Homo sapiens: one gene and its partners. The protein of the gene in region 2 purifies or fractionates together with the protein of the main gene of each other region. This does not show direct contact. Each region holds a gene or a part of one and is shown on either strand. Other genes may lie near its edges.

The links.
Region 1: the proteins of SLC25A14 (region 2) and PDIA6 purify together in Homo sapiens (affinity purification with mass spectrometry; one large-scale study listed by BioGRID and IntAct). This does not show direct contact.
Region 3: the proteins of SLC25A14 (region 2) and SIL1 purify together in Homo sapiens (affinity purification with mass spectrometry; one large-scale study listed by BioGRID and IntAct). This does not show direct contact.
Region 4: the proteins of SLC25A14 (region 2) and FKBP10 purify together in Homo sapiens (affinity purification with mass spectrometry; one large-scale study listed by BioGRID and IntAct). This does not show direct contact.

Annotation. Positions count from the first base shown.
Region 1 is NC_000002.12:10,792,286-10,795,785, forward strand, and holds part of PDIA6 (protein disulfide-isomerase A6 isoform d precursor), read right to left. Parts: intron 918-3,500; coding exon 811-917; intron 1-810. UniProt on the Homo sapiens protein: May function as a chaperone that inhibits aggregation of misfolded proteins. Negatively regulates the unfolded protein response (UPR) through binding to UPR sensors such as ERN1, which in turn inactivates ERN1 signaling.
Region 2 is NC_000023.11:130,367,419-130,370,918, reverse strand, and holds part of SLC25A14 (brain mitochondrial carrier protein 1 isoform 1 precursor), read right to left. Parts: intron 1-3,500. UniProt on the Homo sapiens protein: Transports inorganic anions (sulfate, sulfite, thiosulfate and phosphate) and, to a lesser extent, a variety of dicarboxylates (e.g. malonate, malate and citramalate) and, even more so, aspartate and glutamate and tricarboxylates.
Region 3 is NC_000005.10:139,188,369-139,191,868, reverse strand, and holds part of SIL1 (nucleotide exchange factor SIL1 precursor), read left to right. Parts: intron 1-3,500.
Region 4 is NC_000017.11:41,819,504-41,823,003, reverse strand, and holds part of FKBP10 (peptidyl-prolyl cis-trans isomerase FKBP10 precursor), read right to left. Parts: intron 3,475-3,500; coding exon 3,329-3,474; intron 2,736-3,328; coding exon 2,543-2,735; intron 2,298-2,542; coding exon of another isoform or gene 2,241-2,297; intron 2,058-2,240; coding exon 1,915-2,057; intron 1,351-1,914; coding exon 1,187-1,350; intron 782-1,186; coding exon 596-781; 3' UTR 1-595. UniProt on the Homo sapiens protein: PPIases accelerate the folding of proteins during protein synthesis.

The sequences.
Region 1 (3,500 bases), on a different chromosome or scaffold from region 2:
TTACATCTTTCATAGACAAAGTCCCTACCAGTCAACAGAGCTAAAAATAACACTTAATCCTTTTCTTTTTTCGAAGAATGTTCTTCAGTACTAAATCTAAGAAGCAGTCAGCATTGCTTTCTGTTGCCAGGCAGGGTGCAGGGGGCCAGGCAACTATGCTCATTAAATGTCTAAGTTTAAAATAAAAGGCAAGAGCATGAAATCTCTGGGTAAGCTCTGAGCCTGTATAAAGAAGCTAGTGTAACTGGTCTCCTAAAAGTAAAAGCCCATTTAATATTGATAGATCTTCAAGTTTGTCTTTTCACAAGAACATCAGTGTAAGCTTCACATTTCACATAAGGGCATCTAAAACACCAATCTGCTCCTCTCTCTCTCTCTTCTTCCCTATCCATTTGTGTAGAATTTTCCATGGATTTGGGGCTGACTGCCACAGATACAGGCCAAGAGGTAATCCAATCTCATCACGGTTTGCCAAAGCCTACCTAGAGGAAAACCCGTCCATCCCATCCCCACTCTGGACCTACAAGTGCCATGGGATGCCAGCACGTGGCTCCTGGGCCTGGTACTTGGACTGCAGGTGTGGCAAGAGGCCCTGGGACTGACTGGCTTTGGCAACAGCAATTCTGAGGAGGCCAAATGAGCAGGCTGGAGGGCTGGTTCCCTCTGGGATCGGTGGATCCAATCCTCTATTATTCTTTAATTGAGAGTTCACCACTTTAACATACTGTTAAAAAACAACTATCTTATACAAGGTATCCACTCTGGCTTCAAAATTATGACACATTAAAAACTGACATTTTATGGTCTTACTTGTTTTCCAGAACTGTATCCTCCGCTCCGTCCCCCGAGGCGATCCTTCACGAGCTGGCGCAGAGCACTCAGCGCAGCATCTACAATGGCTTCACCAGTTCTGCCACCTACAGGAGACGGAAGGTAGGCGGTCCTCAGCCCGGCCTTCAGCAAGTGCCTCATCTGGCCCGGCCCAAGACTGTGTCTTTACCTCACTGTCGGCTTCACCAGGTGTGACACAGTTCTGACACGTGTATCTCTGACAGAACACACTTTCTCCCCACAATGCATTTTGCACTAAACTTAACACTTGGAAAACCAATTCCTTTTCCTTTTTTATTTATTATTATTATTTTTTGAGATGGAGTCTCACCCTGTTGCCCAGGCTGGAGTACAGTGGCACCATCTCAGGTCACTGCAACCTCCGCCTCCCGGGTTCGAGTGATTTCTGGCTAATTTTTGTATTTTTAGTAGAGACAGGATTTCACCATGTCGGCCAGGCTGGTCACAAACTCCTGACCTCAAGTGATCCGCCCACCTCAGCCTCTCAAAGTGCTGGGATCACAAGTGTGAGCCACCGTGTCCAGCCCGATTTCTCTTCTTAAGTTTTACGTAGTGTGAACGAAAACTCCCTGCTCAAACACCATCTCCTAATGAGAATAACTCACAAATGTTTACCGAACATGAACATGGATGAATAAGAAGCTTAATATCTAGCTGAGAAAGCAGGGGAATTTCCCAAATAAAAAAGGAACAATTTCTGTGAGATACCAGATAGAAAAGATGGAAAAAGTAGGTATGAGGTGTCTTTAAAGCCAAGTAACTGGAAACCATTCCAGGCTTCTTTTTTTCTATCTTGCTTGAAACAGTTAAGCTGAACTTAATCCTAATATAAGTAACAAATCTGCATTAAAACTCAAAGAGGCAAGATGATAATAGTCTTTGGAAGTTCACCAAAAACTTATTTGCTCAAGACAGTCAGGGGCTATTAACTAACACAGAAGTACTGGAATAACATATGCCATCTGCTTTCTTCAGTTTAAAGGCAAAACTAGATCTAATAGAATCTCTTTAGAAAGTTCATTTTCTGGCCAGCTGTGGTGGCTCACGCCTGGGATCTCAGCACTTTGGGAGGCAGAGGCACGTGGAACACCTGAGGTCAGGAGTTCAAGACCATCCTGCCCAACATGGTGAAACCCTGTCTCTACTAAAAACACAAAAATTAGCTGGGCGTGGTGGTGGACATCTATAATCCCAGCTACTCAGGAGGCTGAGGCAGGAGAATCACCTGAACCCAGGAGACGGAGGCTGCAGTGAGCTGACATCGCGCCACTGCACTCCAGCCTGGGTGACAGAACGAGACTCTGTGTCAAGAAAAAAAAAAAAAATCTTTCTTTTTTTTTTTTTTTTTTTTTAGAGTTTTCTCAAACTCCTGTACTCAAGTGATCCTCCCACCTCAGCCTCCCAAAGTGCTGGGATTAGAGATCTAAGGTGTGGCAGCCGGCCTTTTTTTCTGCCCAGGAAGAGAAACTTTTGAGAACACACCAGACCTGACACAAGAAACAAAATATAGGCCGGGTGCGGTGGCTCACGCCTGTAATCCCAGCACTTTGGGAGGCCGAGGCAGGCGGATCATGAGGTCAAGAGTTCGAGAGCAGCCTGACCAACATGGTGAAACCCCATCTCTACTAAAAATACAACAATTAGCCGGGTGTAGTGGTGCATGTCTGTAATCCCAGCTACTCAGGAGGCTGAGGCAGGAGAATTGCTTGAACCCAGGAGGCGGAGGTTGCAGTGAGCCGAGATAGCACCACTGCACTCCAGCCTGGGCAACAGAGTGAGACTCCATCTCGAACAAAACAAAACAAAAATACCCACAAAATATATTACAGCAACTCTCAGCATCTATTCAGATAATCTTGCACTGTATCGCTGGCTGAGCCTACCAAGTATGTCACTTGATAACACAGAAGGGCAAGGCCTCAACATGAAACAGCCTCTGCTCCTTATCTATGTCAGGTATTTCCGTCATCTGAACCACTGCCCCTTCCCCGAGTCTTTATCTGGACATATGCCAAATCATGAAGTATACTAGGAAAAAAACTTTTCAGCGTTTTGGGCCATACTGTCTATTGCAACTACTCAATTCTGTTGTTCCAGTGCAAAAGGAGCCAGAGACAATATGTTGACAAACAGGCAGGGCTGTGTTCCAATAAACTAAATTTATAAAAACAGCAGCAGACTGACTGCACTAAAAACATGTGCATTTTCATAAGTGAGGAAAACTAAAACAAATTATTATTCAAAGGCAGAAAAGCAGGTGTTTACTCAGGGGAAAAAAAAGTCTCTCCCTAGAACTTTGGAGCTGGGGAGCCTAGCAGAGACAACGTGTCCAAGGCCACATCTTCATCTTCAGACGAAGACGAAGACGAAGATGAGCCCTCCAGCCTCGAGATTTGCCAACGACACATATTTGCCAAGTATTTGTCTCATATGCTTTATGTGTACTATTTCAATTAAGCTTCTGGTACCTTAAAATAGGTTTGCACATCCCCATTATACAGAGAAGCAAGACACTAAGTACTGTTTAGTTACGACGCTGGAGTATGGAGAGGCTAGCAGCCAGGCAGCCAGGATGGGCTGCCTTCCCAGCTCACACACGACAGATTCTGTACCCCTCACCCCTACCTTCCCTGCCTTCTATTAGCTGG
Region 2 (3,500 bases):
GCTGCTTTGCAATCCCTGGCCCACAGAAACTGCAAAATAACAAATGGTTTAAGGCAATGAGTTTTGGAGTAATTTGTTACACAGCAATAGGTAACCTATACAGCAGTTTCTACCCTCATGGAGTGCATATTCTAGTGGGGCTGACAAATACACAAATTGATATATATTATATCCAAAAATAAGTGCCACAAAGAGAACTAAAGCAGGGTAAGAAAATAGAAAGTTGGGCAAGTCATTATTCTTCTCTGAGTCTGTTTCATCATTATAAATTCTATATAATGCCATAGCCTACCTCATGTGAATGCTTTGAGGATTACATGAAGAAAAATGTGAAGTGTTTTGAGTTTTGGTTTCCTACTTTATACAACAGGGGTCTTATATACATGGTTATGAGAATTAAATGATAAATTATGCATAAACGTTGTAAACTGGTGGCACGTGCTGAATTTAGCCAGCAGAAATGGTTCGTATATAATGGACAAATATCTATTACATAACTACAGTGTGTTAGGCATTGTGTTAGACATTGAAAAATGTTATTTTGCCTTTCCAATAGTGAAGTGAAACCCACCACAATTCTAAAAAAAGGATATATTTGGATAAGACAATAATATGAGAAGCCAGAGTTGTAAATATTCTTTTTCCCATCCTGTACATTAAGTATACTAGAGATAATTATCCTTACTAACTACTTTTGGGAACAAACAGTAAAATAATAAGCACAATATTTATGAAGATATAGTGGTAATATGTTTCCCCCAATGGATCTTCAGCAAATAGTAAAGGTCTGAGACCAAAACTGATGTTGGAAAATTGTGAAAATCACCCCAAATAAAGCCCAGATGTGAATAACCTAGAACCTAGACTGTTAAATGACAAGAGACCTCTGAAAGACCATCCAATCTCATAATCTCTTACCTGGACTACCACAATGGACTTTTAATTGGTCTAAAATCTCTACCTAGAAGCTAGAACAATCTTTTAAAATTATAAATGAGAGCATAACATTTCCTGCTTAAAGCTCTCAAATGGCTTCCTGGTGGATTTCATTCTAATTACAAAGTCTCTGCAAAGACCTATAGGATCCCACATGATTTAGCTGCTGCCTTTCTCTCCAGTTTCATTTCCTACTAGTTTCTCCCTTCATTCACCACACACTCAGCCACACTAGCTTTCTTTCTAACCCTTGAACATGTCCAGCTTATTTCCAACTCAGGCCTTCAGTAACCTATTCCCTCTTTATGAAATGGTTTTCTCCCAGCTCTCATGGCCAGCTCATCATCATTCAGATCTCAGCTCAAATGTCACCTCCTCAGAGGCTTTTCTTGACCATCCTTGCTGAAGTAGTTCCCCACTACTGAGTCACTATTGCAATATGCTGTTATTTTCTGCATAGCATCTATTTCTATCTAAAATTATACTGTGCATTGTGTGTTTATTGTCTCCCTCAACTAGAATGAAATCTCCAAGAGATTAGAAACTAGCTTTGTTTGTTCACCATTGTGTCACCACCACCTAACACAGTGTCTGGTGCAAGAAATTTTCCCGTAAGTATTTGTTGAAGAGGTGAACACAAAAACAGTAAGGGTCTCTAACACTCTTGTGAGCCATCTGGATCTTTTTTTTTTTAATTAAGAAACATGGTCTTGCTCTGTCGCCTAGACTGGAGTGCAGTGGCAAGACTACATAGCTCACTGCAGCCTCAAACTCTGGCTCAAGCGATCCTCCCGAGTAGCTAAGACTACAGGATGCAAGCCACAGCACCCGGCTTGAATCTTTATAAATTTCCAAAAACAGTGACCAATTTCTTCACAACGTGAGAACTGGGAGGCATCTTTTGGCATAAGGCAGTTGTGTGAAAACAAAGAACTTCTATAGATAAGCATAGACAAAATAATAAAGTCTGATGCTATTACATAAATGGCAAAATAGAACAAAGTCATTTTAAAGAATGACTGCTATTAAAATTTTTTAGTAGCAAGTGAGTAAATGAGTGAGCAAATGTAAGTACTTAAAGGTTACTACCAACATAAAAACATGTTTCTGCAGATTCAGAACAGCATAGTGGCTGTAAGTACAAACTTTGGAATCAGACAGATTGTGGATTAAGTCTCAGACCTGCCTCTTATTAGCTGTGTAATCTTGTGTAAGTTATTACTTAGCTACTCTGAACCTAAGTTTCCTCCTTTATAAAATGGGAAAGATAATATCTACTCCACAAGGTCGCTGTGAGAGTTAAAGGATATACTCTATGTACAGTGCCTGCGATAGAATAAGCATTCAATAAACATTAGCTATTACTATATTATTGTATAGTAAATCTTACAGTAAATCTTTTAGCCAATCTTCTTGAAACAGTGCTTTACATTTGTCTATTTATCATTACTTCCTGTGTTTATCTCCTTCTATTAGAATCTAAGTGTCATAAACACAGGGACATTTTGGTTTACCAGTACATCCTCAACAACCTAGAACAGTGCTTAGCACATAAGACAAACATTTCTTTCTTTTGTGTGTGTGTGGGGGGGCCTCTTCAAGAGTCAGCTTGATTTTTTCTTTTTTATTACTTGAATGAATAATCAAACATATTCCTCAATGCACAGCAATTGGCTTTTGCAAACACCAATTCACCAAACCTTCTAAAAAATATTAAATCCAACAGACTCTTTGCAGTCCTTATCATATTAGATCGCTATTGCATGTGACATTAAGTAACCACTCATTCCTTCTTGAAACTCATTAACTTCTTTGGCTCCCATGACACTACTCTCTAAGTTTCCTCGTCTTTGGTGTCTTTCCTAGGTTCCTCATCTGCCAAGACCTTAAAAATTGGTATTCCGGTCAGGGCACGGTGGCTCACGCCTGTAATCCCAATACTTTGGGAGGCCAAGGCGGGTGGATCACGAGGTTAGGAGTTCGAGACCAGCCTGACCAACATGGTGCAACCCTGTCTCTACTAAAAACAAAAATAAGCCAGGCGTAGTGGCGGGCACCTGTAATCCCAGCTACTCAGGAGGCTGAGGCAGGAGAATTGCTTGAACACGGGAGGCAGAGATTGCAGTGAGCAGAGATCACGCCATTGCACTCCAGCCTGGGCATAAATAAATAAATAAAAATTGGTATTCTGCAGTGTTTTTTCCTTGGCCCAGTGCTCTTCCCTCTACACCAGTAATTGTCAAATGCAGAAATACCAATGGGGGCTTTTGCCAAACTATACTTTCCAGGGTCTGAGAATTGCTGCCCCAGGCAATCATTATTACGGGAAAGAATTTTATAGTACTCCAGTATGCTGGGAAGGCAAAAAGGTTGTGAACTCCTCTACCTACTCTCCTTGGTCAACTCTCTCCACAGTTATATACCACCTGTGTGCTAATGACTCCATGGGCTTTTATCTATATCCATGAACCCTCTCTTGAGTCAGGGCTAGAATATCCATATGTATCCACTGGATTTTCCTCATGCACATCAAACTGAGTATCCAAAACTAGGATGTCTCCCCC
Region 3 (3,500 bases), on a different chromosome or scaffold from region 2:
TCCTGGCCTCGAGATCTGCCGGCCTCGGCCTTCCAAAGTGCTGGGATTACAGGCGTGAGCCACTGTGCCTGGCCCTTTTTAAGAGGGTCTCACTCTGTTGCCCACGCTGGAGTATAGTGGTGTGATCATAGCTCATTGCAACCTCCAACTCCTGGGCTCAAGTGATCCTCCCACCTCAGCCTCCCAAGTAGCTAGGACCATGGGTGTGCACCACCATGCCTGGCTAATTTAATTTTTTTTTTTTTTTTTAAAGAGACAGGGTCTTGCTTGCAACATTGCCCAGGCTGATCTTAAATTCCTGGCCTCAAGTGATGCCCTACCTTGGCCTTCTAGAGCACTGGGATTACAAGTGTGAGCCACCATGCCCAGCTATACCAGTGGGCTTTTAAATGGACATTTCTTTACCTCTGGGGATAGTCTCATTTTTGTGAGGCTCCCAAGGGGAAAGCAGCCATCTGACCAAACTAGAAAACTAGCAGGCTTCAGCCCAGTGGAATAACATAAAGTAGGACAATCGATACAGACAACATTGATTGGCCATGCTTTGAGTGCTGTGGATAGTGTGTATTGGAAGCTTAAGGGGCCAGCTCATAAGTAAGTTGTAAGTAAGTATTTAAGGATGCTTTTTTTTTTTTTTTTTTTTTTTTGAGACAGAGTCTCACTGTCACCCAGGTGTGAGTGTGATCTTGGCTCACTGCAACCTCTGCCTCCCAGGTTCAAGTGATTCTTGTGCCTCAGCCTCCTAAGCAGCTGGGATTACAGGTGCTTGCCACCATGGCCGGCTAATTTTTGTATTTGCAGTAGAGATGGGGTTTTACCATGTTGGCCAGGCTGGTCTTGAACTCCTGACATCAGGTAATCTGCTCACCCCGGTCTCCCAAAGTGCTGGGATTACAGGTGTGAGCCACTGTCTCTGGCCTAAGGTTGCTTCTTGTTTTTCCCCACACCCCATCTCATACTCATGGGGAGTTGGGTTTGACTGTATTCTTGAAGTTAAGTCTCCATCCTTGGACCCAGCTGCTAAAGTCTAAAATGATTGTGTTTTGGGCTGGAAGATATTATAGAGATCTTTATTTCCTTGCAAACATCAGGGCTGGCTGTTTGTGGTACTGTGGATGAGTGAAGAGTCAGGAGATACACTTCTAGTTCTGTTACTGCCCAATGCCTCCATTTTGCATTTGATAGGTTTTTATTTTTCTGACGACAAAAACTGAGCCCCAGAGAAGTGAAGTGGGCCACGTAATGGTAGGATCTTTTTTAGGCCACCCACATAATAGTGGGACTCTAGTGTTAGAGCTGGGACACAGGCTAGGGGTCTTACAAAGGGTGGCCATAGAAGTTGTTAGAATTGTTTAAAGCATTGTAAAGATGCAGGATGCTTTTGCAGTTAAAAGTCTCCTGGGAAGGAGGAGGCCCTGTCTCCACTTACTGCCTTGTACATGATCTTATACCCTCATGGTTGAAGATTTTTGCTGTCGTGCTGTTTTTCCTCCTACTCATGTCGAAATGTGTTTCTCTTGCTCTTACCTCAGAGGAAATGAATTTGAAGCCTTCCTCCGTGTTAGAAACAAATAGTGCTCAGGCCAGACTTGTGTGTTTCTGTAAAGAATGAGGCCAGATGTAACAGTGGACCTTATCTGGTGATCCAAGCAAACCTTCAAGACATCTCTAAGAGAAAGAGAGAAGGAATGAGTGTATTTCAGAGTGGTTTAAACACACTTTGGAGTCAGACTCACTTGTATTTACGTTCTGATATCTACTTACTAGTTGTCAGATTGTAAGTTACTTATTTTCTCTAAGCCTTAGTTTTATGATCTGTTGAATGGGAATAGTAATATGTATTTTTATAGCTATCTTAAGAATTCAGAGAATAGATATGGTGCTTCCTCTGGCACAATGTAAAACAGCAGTCCCCAACCTTTTTGGCACTAGGGACTAGTTTCATGGAAGACTATTTTTCCATGGACTGGGGGATGTGGGGGATGGTTTGGGGATGATTCAAGCACATTATATTTATTGTGTACTTTATTTCTGTTATTATTATTTTTGAGACAGAGTCTCACTCCATCACCCAGGCTGGAGTTCAGTGGCACAGTCTTGGCTCACTGCAACCTCTGCTTCCCAGGTTCAAGCAATTCTCCTGCCTCAGCTTCCTGAGTAGCTGAGATTACAGATGTGTACCACCACACCCGCTAATTTTTGTATTTTTAGTAGAGATGAGGTTTCACCATGTTGACCAGGCTGGTCTTGAACTCCTGACCTCAGGTGATCCACCCGCCTGGACCTCCCAAAATGCTGGGATTATGGGCATCATGCCCAACCTATTTCTATTATTATTACATTATAGTATGTAATGAAATATACAACTCACCATAATGTAGACTTAGTGGGAGCCCTGAGCTTGTTTTCCTGCAACTAGACGGTCCCATCTGGGGGTGATGGGAGACAGTGACAGATCATCAGGCATTAGATTCTCATAAGGAGTGTTCAACCTAGATCCCTTGCATGCACAGTTCACAATAGAGTTTGTGCTCCTATGAGAATCTAATGCTGCCACTGATCTGACAGGAGGCGGTGCTCAGGCGTTAATGCAAGCGTTGGGGAGCAGCTGTAAATACAGATGAAGCTTTGCTCACTCACTTGCTGCTCACCTCCTTGGATGGGTTTCTGATAGGCTACAGACCAGTATCGGGGGTTTGGGACCCCTGATGTAAATGCTCTGTGTTGTCATCATTATTGACAACAATAGTTTCCAGTTTCTGAGCCACGTCGTAGTTTCAGGATAGGTTATGCTGACCAAGCAAGTTTTATCTTAACCATCACCTCATTGTTGTCTTAGTTGGTTTGTATTACATATTATTTATACCAATAGTTATAGGTATTTCATGCTGAATAACTAAAAGTTGTGAGTAGCAAGGAACTTTGCTGCTTCTCTGCCATCTCCTTCCTTACTCAGCTTAGTGCTTATCTTTCTCAGGTTCTCTCTTGTCAGGTGCTCAAGCCAGCAGGCCTTGTTTCGGGGGCAGTGTCTGATGAGGGGATTTTATTGGGGTAGGGCTGGCTAGTCCAGAGCCTGCCTGGTCCCTCAGATAGTATGTTCTCCTTATCTCTTGCTTTCTGCTCTTCAGCCAGACATGAAGCAATTAGCTCATCAAGGGAATGTTGACTTTTGTCACTGCTTTCCTCTGATTTGTATGCTCATTTCTGGTCCTTGTGCAAAGTCACGGAGGCACAGTCACATACACTGACCCAGATTTTGTGCTCAAGTTGACTGTCTCTCTCTTTGAGATGTACAACTGGTTCCATGTAGCAAGGGAGTGAGGAAAAAGCCCCTGGAGCCAATCCCATTATTTTGATCTCAAGTTGAGTTTTTAAAAAAATCCAAGCACTATGACTATAGACCATGCCTCACTTCTCTGTATGAAACAAATAAGGTAAAAAAAACTCACTATTTGGAGGGAAGGCCAATCTGAATTGGTAAACAATAGGAATTAGTACAT
Region 4 (3,500 bases), on a different chromosome or scaffold from region 2:
ATGAAAAGCTAACTACAGCCCAGTCTGGCCTCCAGCAGCCCAGGGTCAGCTCAGCCTCCACTGGAGGCGAGGGAGGAGGGCAAAGGGCATGGGAGAGGTAGGGCTGCCCTCCAGGAGCCTTCCCCTTCCCTAGGAGCCAGTCAGGATTGGGGAGGAAGGCAGAGGGGTCCTAGGGAGCTGTCACATAGAGGAAAAGGGGCTGGGAGTGGGGATGACAAGAAGTACAAAGAAAGAGAAAGTTTGGGGAGATGGATAACAAGCTCAGCTGTGTCAGTGATGTGGAGGGGAGGTATGGTGGGGGACCAGCCATGGCCCTATCCAACCCCAGGCTCCACAGGCCCCAAATTGGCTTTGCAAATCCAAACATTTTAAGGAAGTGGTTTAGGGATGGAAGAGAAACACGGTAGAGGTCTGTGCTGTGGATTTTCATCTAGGGTGGTGGGAACACCAGAGATGTCTCCTCTGCCATTGTTTTAGTTGGCTCCTGGACCTCATCCCAGCAGAGGGAGGGTGACTGTCAGCAGGTCAGTCCCACCGCCACTGTCCCCCTCGCAGTGGGCCTCTGTGTCTCAGGCCTGGCCAGGCTCCCTGCCCCTCAGAGCTCCTCGTGGACCCGCTCCTCGTCCTCATCTGACTTCAGCTTGAGCTCGTCGACTGTGATCTTGCCGTCCTGGTTGCGGTCCTGGTTCTGGAACATGTCTCCTATGGTTTTCTCAGGGTCCTGCCCAGGCATGAGGCGTCCTTTGCCCTCACTCACTTGAGCCTTGATGAAGGTGGAGAACTGGGGCAGGGGAGAGCCGGGGGAGCGGGCAGTGAGGGTCATGGCCTTGGGAGGGGCAGGGGCCCCGGGTGGAGGCCAGTGAGTGCTTTCTTTTTCTTCTTTTTTCCCAGGCTCCCCCGCACCCTGTAACTCAGGAAGGGCTGGGAAAGGCACTGGTGCTGGGGTCCTGGTGGGGGCTGGGGTGGAGGCGTGGCATGGGGATAGTCTGTGACTGGTCTCAGGTAGGGAACAGCCTGCATGTGTGCCCAGGAAAAAGCAGGGACAAGGAGCCTGAGGCGTGGGACTCAGCGCAGGCAGGAGCACCAGGGCGGGTGGGCAGTCCGGACGGGGGACGTCTTCTTCCTCGATGCTTCCTGGGTGCGGGGATTGCGTGGGCATGGCTATTAGGACTGAACCTTCACCCACCTCCTCCGGAGGGACCTCGCCATCCTTGTTGAGGTCCATGTCTTCAAACAGGTTGGCAGGAGGGTCCTTGTGCCACACAAACAGGTAGCCTGTGGGCAGCCCATCCTCCCGGGACACCAGCTCCACCTCAAACAGCAGCACAGCACTGCCTGGGACTCCCCGGGCTGGAGGGAGGGCAGGAGAGAAGGGAGGGGTCCTAGTCAGGCCGGGGTCTGGGCCTGGCTTCACTGTTTCCCAGCCCACAGGCCAGTTTCCCCTCCTGGGGCTGGGCTGGAGAGTGGGGCATGGGATGTTTAAGGAGCCATCCTGAAGGCATTCCTGACTCCTCCCACCAGTCATCAGACCCACAGTGGGCAGGAGCAAAAGGGACAGATGCCAGTCAGATTACGGTCTCGGGCCGAGCGCAGTGGCTCATGATTATAATCCCAGCACTTTGGGAGGCCAAGGCGGGTGGATCACCTGAGGTCAGGAGTTCAAGACCAGCCTGACCAACATGGCAAAACCCTGTCTCTACTAAAAATACAAAAATTAGCTGGGCACGGTGGCAGGTGCCTGTAATCCCAGCTACTCGGGAGGCTGAGGCAGGAGAATCACTTGAACCTGGGAAGTGGAGGTTGCAGTGAGCTGAGAGCACACCACTGCACTCCAGCCTGGGTGACAGAGTCAGACTCCATCTCAAAAAAAAAAAAAAAAAAAAAAAAAAAAAGATTATGGTCTCAGCCCCTCACCTCCACTCTCCCCGTGGGCCAGGTGCGGGGGCACGATGAGCTGCCGCCTCTCTCCCACACACATGCCCTGCAGGCCCGTGTCCAGGCCTTCGATCACCTTGTTGGCCCCGAGAGTCGCCTCCTGGGGGGCCCCGTAGTCATGCCTGGGGGAGAGCAGATGCCCAGGTCAGCAGCCACCCTGTCCCCTGCCAGCGCACACCCCTCTCCCTCTGAGGTGGGCCCAGAACAAGCCCTCAGTTCCGGAGTTACTCCCACTGGTGACTTGGGCCACGCAGCAGAGTGCAGGGGCCCAGCTGTGCAGACGTGGGGTTCCCTTCTCATCTTGCCTCTGCCCCCTAAAGTGTGGCCTCGAGGGCTCATGGCTCCCTGCGTCAGTTTCCCCTCTGTGAAATAGAAAGAGCAGTTCTCCCCCAACTGTTGGCTTCACCTTCCCTTCCCCTGCGAAGCAGAGAATTTCATCTCCTCGACATGCTCCGAGATGGGGACTTACAGAAAGCAGCAAGAGGTTGAATGCTCCCCTGGCGCTCGAGGACCAAGAGGGAGGAGCAGGCGTCGGGGGTGCACTGAGGAGGACTCCCCATGCCTGTGCCCACCCACCTGCCCAGTCCCGGCCCCCCCCCGGACCCACGAGGTGAACAGCTGGGTGCCGTCCAGCAAAGAACAGTTGTAATGGTATCGAACAAAGTCCCCAAGCTTGGTGGTCTCATTGCAGGTCTCAGATGGCCGGGACAGTGTCCTGATTTCCACCACATCCGCAGGGTTGTGGAAGTCAATGACATGGACGTTGAAGATTAGCACGGCAGAGCCAGGGATCTTGTCTCCTGAGGCCAGAATGGGGGAGTGTGGTCAGCTCAGAGCACTAGGAGAGGCTACTTGAGGTCTCTCCATGGAGGTCCCCAGACCTGATACCCCTTCCCGACCCTGAGGATCCAAAGGAGGATGGGACGGGATGTTTGTCCAGAGTCAATTCTAACAAACTTTCACTGGGGCAGGGGGCAGGGGAAGGCAGCTTTCCAGTAAGAAAGCCCTTTTCCACTCACCGTCTTGCAAACTCCCAGTAACTTACCCTGCGGATCAGCATGGCTTGCCCACTTGACAGGTGAGGACACTGAGGCTCCCAGCACAGCTGGGTCCTGGGGGTATGCTGGTTCTGTTTTTCCATAACCACCCTCCCTCCCCAAACTTGGCTGCCCTTCTCCACTGCGGAAGGGGCGAAGTGGGGCGCTGCCCTGGAGGAAACCGATGGAGTCTGTGTGGCAGGAATCAGATGGGGTGACCAGATGTAAGCTGCATGCATGTTTTTGTGATGAGAGGGGCCGAGCGGTGCCTGGAATCCCACTGTGGGAGGGGGTGGCCTAGACACAATGGGCAGTTCGGAGGAGGAGCTGAGGTGGTGGCTGGGGAACGCCCCTACCAGTTCCATTCTCCCCATAGGCGAGGTGCGGGGGGATGGTAATTCTCCGGCGTTCCCCCATGCAGGCACCCTGCAGCCCCTGGTCCATCCCGGGGATGATGTAACCCTGCCCGATATAGGTATTGTAGGTGTGGTTGCGGGAGTAGCTGCAATACAAGGCGGGAGGGCCAGG